Homo sapiens: one gene and its partner. The protein of the gene in region 1 purifies or fractionates together with the protein of each later gene. This does not show direct contact. Each region holds a gene or a part of one and is shown in the gene's direction. Other genes may lie near its edges.

Evidence for each region.
Region 2: the proteins of PHETA2 (region 1) and RIC8B purify together in Homo sapiens (affinity purification with mass spectrometry; one large-scale study listed by BioGRID and IntAct). This does not show direct contact.

The regions. Positions count from the first base shown.
Region 1 is NC_000022.11:42,072,860-42,077,323, forward strand, and holds the start of PHETA2 (sesquipedalian-2), read left to right. Parts: upstream 1-1,388; 5' UTR 1,389-1,482; intron 1,483-2,711; 5' UTR 2,712-2,793; intron 2,794-3,199; exon of another isoform or gene 3,200-3,302; intron 3,303-4,420; 5' UTR 4,421-4,434; coding exon 4,435-4,464. UniProt on the Homo sapiens protein: Plays a role in endocytic trafficking. Required for receptor recycling from endosomes, both to the trans-Golgi network and the plasma membrane.
Region 2 is NC_000012.12:106,843,965-106,847,779, forward strand, and holds part of RIC8B (chaperone Ric-8B), read left to right. Parts: intron 1-3,815.

The DNA.
Region 1 (4,464 bases):
TTCTGGCTGCCTCTCCCTCCCCGCTCTTGCCGCGTTTGTGACATCTCGCCTGGATAGTGGCAGCAGGCTCCTCACTGGTCTCCAGCCTCCACTGACATTGATTCTCACCACAGAAGCCAGAGTATGCCTTGAAATCGCTCAGGTCCCTCCTCACAGCCCTGTCTAGAGTAACAGCCCTCCCAGATTTACAGAGCCCCATCCCACCCCTTCTACCCCCACCTCCTACTGTCTGCCCCTCCCCAGGCCTCCCAGCCTCACTGGCCTTCTTGCAGGTCCTCAAGCACAACAGGCCTGAGGGCCACTGCGCTGACTGTTCCCTCTGCCTGGAATTGGCATGGCTGGCTCCCTCATTTCCTTCAAGTATTTGTCCAATGTTACTTTCTCAGTGAGGCCTACCCTGACCACTCTATTTGCAATTGCAACCTCCCTACTCCCACAATTTCCCATCTCCCTTACCCTCCTCTGTTTTTCCATGCCACTTATTATCTTCTAACACATTTATTATGGTGTACAGTATTAACTGAATAAAATTTAGTAGGGGAGACAGGCAATAAACAAGAAAATAAAAGCATGAGCATAGGAAAGTTTACTCTAGCAGTGAGTGCTCTGATGGAAATAACACCCCAGGGATGGGACAGAGACTGCAGGGCAGGTTGCTTTACAATGGTCCCAGAGGAGACCACTGAGCAGAGACTCAAATCTGTGTCCAGAGGCGTCCTGAGGAGTGGAGCTGCGGTTGGGGGTGGGAAGGAAGGCCATTCTAGGCTGCAGGAACTGCAAGGGCAAAGGCTCTGAGGCGGGAGCCAGGTTCATGGGCAGATGTTTGAGGACACCTCCGGCTTCCAGGGCCTTCCAGAAGTTCCAGTCTCTTGGGTTTGGTTGTGCATTCCTGCGACCTTCACCGCAGGCCTCCTCCTCCACCCACTAGTGCAGAGCCTGGGGGCTGCCGGTGGGTTTCAGGCCAGGGAAGCAGAAATGGGTAATTTCCAGAGGCAGAAATCAGCCGACCCCGGTGGCCCGGTGGGTGGCCAACAAAGCTTGGCTGGCCCTCGCGGGCTGTGTAGGAGCCCACCCTAGGGAGGTACCCAGAGACATCCCTGGTTTGGCTCTGCCGGGAAAGTGGGCCGAGCAGGGAGAGGGGGACCAGAGAGGAAGAGATGGACAGAGTTTTCCGGACGGTGGGCTGGGTCCGAGGCCCGCGGACCGTCCGAGGGGGGCCTCTGGGTTCGAGGCCGCCCGCACCGACCAGTGCTGTGGCTCGGGCAGTTCACCGCCCTCTCGGGCCTCAGTTTCCCGCCCTGGCAGACCTCGAGGCGGCCTCGGAGATCCCGGGCCTGGCGAATACTGGGCGGGGAGGGGCGTTAACTCCAGCCTCCCGGGCGGGGTCTCCCGGCTCCCGCGGCCACGTTGCAGCCCAGGCGGAGGCGCGGGATCTCGAGCTGGGATCGCCCTCTTGGGCTTCGGTGCGATCGGCGGCGGGAGGTGAGAGTGGGCCCGGCGGGCTCCGGGAGGAGGTGGCCCCAGGGAAGGTGTGGCCGCGGGGAAGTGGCGGCGAACAGCCCCGACGCGAGGACGGGGAAACCAAGGCGGCAGCCAGGGAGACCCTGACCGAGGTGACCTCTGTTTAGGGCGACAACCGGGTTGGGGCTCCCCGCAGTGGCCACTGGCCCGGCGGTCCCGCACCCCCAGCCCGCCTCTCCTCCAACAAAAGAATCCAGGAAGACGGTGGGGCGGGCGGGAGGCCCGGTGTGCGGTGGCCTGGCCCCCCTACTGGTGGAGAGGAGGGAGCGCCCTTCCCCAGACGCGGGGGAGGGGAGGGGTCATGGCCCCACGGGCTGCCCACCCCCTCCCTGTGCCCCAGTGCTGGGCCCAGGACCCCCAGTGAGGCCACTCCTCTGGCAAACATCTGTGATCTCTTCCCCCTTCCTGGGCCCCCCCTACTGGAATGGCGTCTCTCCCCATCCAGGGGCCTGGCTTGTTTTTCTCCATAACCCTTAGCATTACCGGTCCTTATGTTATCTCTTATTTCACTAATTATTCTTTCATTAATTTATTAGTATTTATTTTGTTTGCCTACAGTGTGTTTCCCCCTGTGGGAATGTAGGCTCCAGGAGGGCGGGAGACTTCGATTTGTCCACTGATGTATCCCCATTAATTCAACAGATCCCTCCTGAGGGCCTCTCTGAGCCCTGCACGGTGCTGGGTATTGGGGTTCTCCTGGGAACTTAGCTGAGCCCCACCCTAGACATTCTGGGGCTGGGAACAGTGCTGTAAACACATATGACATCGTCGTGGGATGAAGGAAACAAACCAGAAATGGGGGGGTCTACTGGTCAGGTGACCTTAGGTCAGGCCACCTTGGTGGTCAGGGCCACCTTAGATGATATGGTGATCATGGAAGGCCTCCCAGATTAGGTGACTTCAGTTAAAGCCAGGAAGTGCTAGAAGGGAAAAGCTAGGAACCATGAGGGCATGTGTAGCTCTGACCTGGACTCAGGCAGGGAGCTGGGGTCTGAAGAGTAAAGGTCAAGACAAGGGGACCCATCCCCTTAAGCTGCTCAGGGGTTCCTGGCTGGGTGGATGGGTGGGGGGATTCTCAGGGGTCAGGGAAGGCTTCCCGGTGGAGGCTGTGGTTTCATTAGGCCTCGAAGGTGGAGTAGGAGTTCTCATTCTTTGGGATAAGCTGACTGGGCTTGAGAATTGTTTTGCAGGTTCCCTGGGAACCAGGTGGTCGAAGGGCTGAGCTGTGTGGCCAGACAAGAGGTCCCTGCCCTCCCCCAGTGAGCCCTGCTGGTAAGTGGGTACAGTGTGAGGGATTTGGGAGACGAAGCTCTGCGTCTCATTGGCCATGTAACCTTGGGCAAGTTCCCCTCACTGCGCTGGGCCTTGGTTTTCCATGAGTAAGGACAGCTGGACTAAGTGCCGTTCATGATGCTGGGGGCACCCACATTCAATGGCTGTGGTTAGCTCTTCTCAGCTGTACCCTGGGTTTGTGCCACACTCTTGTGTACAGAGTAGCTCCCCATCTGGCCCTGAAGGCTGCAGATTGAGACAGAAAAATAATGTTTTATCTGAGGAATTGGAGCCCCTTTAAATAATCAGGCCCAGACATACTGAAACGCAACAGCTGTCAAGTCTTACTCCTCCCTTGAGCTAAAGAATTATCTCTTTTTCTTTTTTTTTCTTTTCTTTTCTTCATGTCAGATCGGTAATGTGCCTACATGGTAACAAGGTTCGAGGGTGGCACAGCTCACACATGCATGTGAACACCCAATCATCACGCTCATGAACTACAAAAGGATCAAGAATTACCTCTTGAAGCCACTTGCTATGTGGCTCTAGAGTGACACCAAGTAGCCATAAAATGCTGTACACTGGACACCCTATAGTTCATACCCTATAGTTCAACAATGTATAGCCAATCACTAATCAATGTTATTTCTTTTTTTTTTTTTGAGATGGAGTTTCTCTCTTGTCACCCAGGTGGAGTGCAATGGCACAATCTTGGCTCACTGCAACCTCTGCCTCCTGGGATCAAGCAATTCTCCTGCCTCAGCCTCCCGAGTAGCTGGGATTACAGGCACCCACCACCGTGCCTGGCTAATTTTTGTATTTAGAGACGGGGTTTCACCATGTTGGCCAGGCTGGTCTCCAACTCCTGAGCTCAGGTGATCCACCCACCTCGGCCTCCCAAAGTGCTGGGATTACAGATGTGAGCCACCGCACCCCACCAATCAATGTTATTTCTATAAACCAAGGAGAATTCCTGCCAAACAACTTTGTCATCCTTGCCCCCTTCTGCCTATAAAAACCTGTAGGAAAGGCCCAACGCAGCACACCCCACGGCAACTTAGAAGTTTGTTCTGGGCAGTTATCCTTACTCTCGCTCAAGTAAACTCTTTAAAGTTATATTTGTGCCTCAGCTTCTGCCTGTAGGTCAATAAGATTCAACAGCTATATGCAAATAAGAGGCCAGTAGAGGCCCAGGAGGGTCATGGAAACCCTGGAAGCTTGGCCTCAGAGTTGGAGTTGAGAGGACCCCAGATGAGGGGATAGTTTAAGCACAGTGGTTTCGATGGGTCTGGGGTCCATTTCAGCTCAGCTGGGGCCTGTTTCTTTGGATTTTAGAAAGCCGTGCCCAGGTCCTGCCATGCCTCCTGTCTGATGCAATCTCGTTATTCTTTTCTCGAAGTCCGCCAGTGTCCAGTTTTTTTTGCATGATCCTCACGACATCCCTTTGAGAGAAAAGGAAGGAAAGACGAGCCCACTTCTCAGGAGACTTTAGGGACCTTAGGGACACAGCAAGCGAGTAGGAGTCCCAGGGCTGGGGTCCAGGTTGCCTCTGGAGCCGGTGCTGTTCCCCAGGAGGGCACGGAACCACCTCCCTCTCTGATCTGCTGCCATCTCTCTTGCCTCACAGTTCCCGTGGGAGCCATGAAGCTGAACGAGAGGAGTGTAGCCCAC
Region 2 (3,815 bases), on another chromosome or scaffold:
ATTACATTGCAAAGTTAGTCTTTTTATGTGCATTTTAAACATAGAATTAATTGAATTTTCTCACAATGATTTTGTTTCAGATAATCAGAAACTCAGTCTTAATCTTTGAAATCTTCTTAATCAAGAAGTGTGTATTTTTTGAGTCATTCATTCAGCAAATGCTACCGAGATCTGCTGTGTGTGCTGTGTTTTGGGCATTGAACAACAGATGAAGTCTTTCCCCTTGGGAAGTTTATTTTGTAGAGAGGGGGACAAAAAGTAAACAAATTTAAAATATAATGGCAGGTGGTGATAAGCATTCTGAAGAAAGGTAAAGCATTTTAAGAGAGAGGAGACACTTTAAGGGAACAAGGGAGGACCTCTCTGAGATGACATTTGAACAGAAAGGTGGAAAAGTAAGAGTATCTCTGAGAATGATTGGAAAGGAATGTCCCTGAGAGAACAAGTTCACAATCCCTGAGACAAGAGGATGCTTTGGTACACTTAAGGAAAAGCAAGAAGGCCTGTGTGACTAGGCCACAATATGCAAGGGGGAGAGTGGTAGATAAAGAGAGGTAACAAGAGCCAGATACAGCAGGCGGTGTAGGACTTTCCATTCTCTTCTAAGTGAGATGAGAAGATATTGGAGTGTTTTAAGAGGGGAAGTGATGTGACCTTATTTATGCTTAAAGATATCCTGGCTACTATTTGTAAGATTGACATAGTGGAGCACAAATGGATGCAAGGAGACAAGTCCAAAAGATAACTGATGTTGCATGTTTGGAGTAGGATGGTAGTGGTTAGAGTTCATACTTGGGGATATGTTTTAAATATTTTAATATGTCTTAAAAGTAGCTCACAGAACTTGCTGATAGATTGGAGTATGGGTTGAAAAAGAAAAAATAAGGGTGATTTTTAAACTTTCAGATTATATCTTAGACTACAAGTGTAAGACTTTGATTGTAACAATACCTGAAACTAGCCTCCTCTAAAATCCCAATTTCAAGCACCTTCTCTTATTTAGTACCCTCAATCCAACATTCTTTCTTCCTCGGAGGATTGTCAGTCTGTCATTTTTTCCCACTGTTCTTCACTCACTTGTGCCTTCTCTCCTTACCCAGGCTAGATTCCACCTGAGGTTCATTACTATAATCACTCCTTTCCATACATCTCTAACTAGCACCTTGTGCGCTCCCTCAGTCGTACTCACCTGGCAAAACCTAACAAACTGGCTAACTCCAGCTTTCTTCCTACTCTGGGTCTCCACCAAGCACTTGAACATGATAAGAGAAAATGACACAACCATTTTGACGAGTCTACTTTAAATTTAAGACCACCAGCCCCAACCGGTTCCTTAGCAAACTCCAAGATGACTATTTCACAGCTTTTCTTCACACCTCCAATGCTTACTGCCCTCTCCTCACTCTCATTTCTTGACTTTGTTTCCTGTTTCATCATGAAATTAAGAAAAAACTTTATCTTTCCACCATTGCATCTGCTATCTGTCTGCATCTATACTGCCATATCCCTTGTATTCCCATCTGTCACAATGGATGAATCATTGCTACTTCTGTGGCCAGCATTTGTCCTGGATCTCTTTCTCTCTCATTAACTTTGCACCTGCATTTATTTCCCCTCTCTCTCTTCTTATATTAATCATTTTAAAAAATGTATTGGATCATTTATCAGCACCCAAACACATCTTTCATCTTAAAAACAAAAACACCTTCCCTTATCCCACTTCTCAAGCTGCCTTTCTATTTCTATGCTCCTCTTTATGCAGTGTCCTCAGAAGAGTTCTCTGTACTCACTCTCTCTATTCTTTTTACTCGTTTTTGACTCCTAAACCCTCTGTAGGCTACATGCCTTCCGCCCCACTGCAAAGGTGTTTATCAGAGTCACCAACTCAACTTTGCCAAAGCTAATAGTTCTCAAGTCTCTTTTTTTAAATTCTCCAATAGAATTTGATGTAAGTATTCCCTCCTCCTTGAAATACTTTCTTCACTTGGTTTCTAGGACACAATAGAGAACCTCTTTGTTGATCTTCCTCGTTTTCCTAACCCTAAATGTTTGAGTGCCCCGAGGCAATACTATCTTGTCTCTATCTCTGCTGCCATGGTGATCTCATTCAAGAGTCATGGTTTTGAAAATCATCCATATATGCTGATGACTCTCAAATTTATATCTCCAGCCCTGACCTGTCACCTAAGCTCTAGACTTATACAGTGAACTGCCGACTCATCTCCTCCTCTTGGATGTATAGTAGGTATCTCAAGTTTAACATACCTCAAACTAATATCTTGATTTTCATCCCTCCAACCTATTTCTTCCCCTTCTTTCCACATTTCAATACGTGGTACCACCATTCACCCAATTGTTCATTTATCACTACATAGAATCTCCCCTAATAAATGAACCAGATTCATTTTTTCCCTCTGTATTTATGGTCAAGATTTAGTAAGCACCTTACTGTATCTAGAAACACTAATAGGTAGTGCTGATAAGGAGAGATTAGAAAATAGAGACCATCTTTGAGGAATTTACAGTCTGTTGAAAGAAGAGAAATACCCAGAAAGCATGAATAATGATTTAGGCAAGATTAATTAATTAATTAAGGTCATTTCCACATTTGATTATTTTAAGACATTCTCCCTTGACTAGGAGGAGTTGGTGAAGCACAGTAAATGAAAATACTTTTTTTCTGCATTTTCGCTTTTTTCCACAAGGGATCCAGGTACACCTAAACTGTTTAGATTTTGCTATCTCTAAACAGAACAGCCAAAAAAAAAAAAAAAACCTATTAGTTAAATACTTCTTAATATGAAGGCCTTGGGCCACATATTGTGTCATTATAAAAGATTATGTGACCCACTGTCTGTCTTCAAGAAACATTACAGTAGAGGTATGGAGATGAAACATGACAGGTAAAAAGATAACTAAAGATACAAGGCATAATACAGAAATCAACTTTCCTTCTGAAGAGGATGCACTGTAGACTGTTATGATCAAGAAAGGCAGAACTTAAAGTACAGATGATTAACTCTGATAATAATGTAAGTGGAACCTTGATTTATTATTATGCCCTGTAGTAAATACCTGGTTAAATCCAACTCATGCCTATCCAAAGGAAATTGGTCTATATTCTGTGTTTGGGAGGTAGAAAAGAAAGCAAGTGGTAGAAATTACTGACCCAGGTTGTATTATTCTGGAGAGGCTTATAGAAGCAATGAGTATTTGGGGGATTTGAAAAAGAAACTGGACAAGATTTGTCAAAGAAAAAATTTGTTGGAGGTAGTATTCTAGGGGGAAATACATAGGCAGTTTGGGAGTGGTATATAACAATAACAACAAAATTTTGTTAAAAATTTGTTTTAAGGAACCAAAAATGTAGCTAACAAAATTTTTACATGATAACCTTTGTTCATAGATTCTGTACTCGAGGTACTATAGACATATACTACATGAAATCATTTGTTACATGTTTCATTCTTCTAGAAATGGGAGACGTACTAAGTATGGTTCAATAATGGTTCACAGTAGTAAGGATTTGTTGTGCAATTACTTTGTGCCTAGCATTTTGTTCTACCCAGCCAGAGACTGAAATATGGATTCCATAAACACTTTAGATAGGTTACTCAATTTTGTGAGATTTAGTTTCCATTTTTGTTTATAGCTGTGTCTCCCCTGCCTCTGATATCTCCTGATACATGGTGGATACTTGACATAGAAAGAGAGAGAGAGAAGAAAGTCATTTGAGTGGATCAAGTAAAATTATATATACATAAAGGATCTGGGATATAATAGGTGCACAGTAAGTTCTTATTTGACTTCGTGTC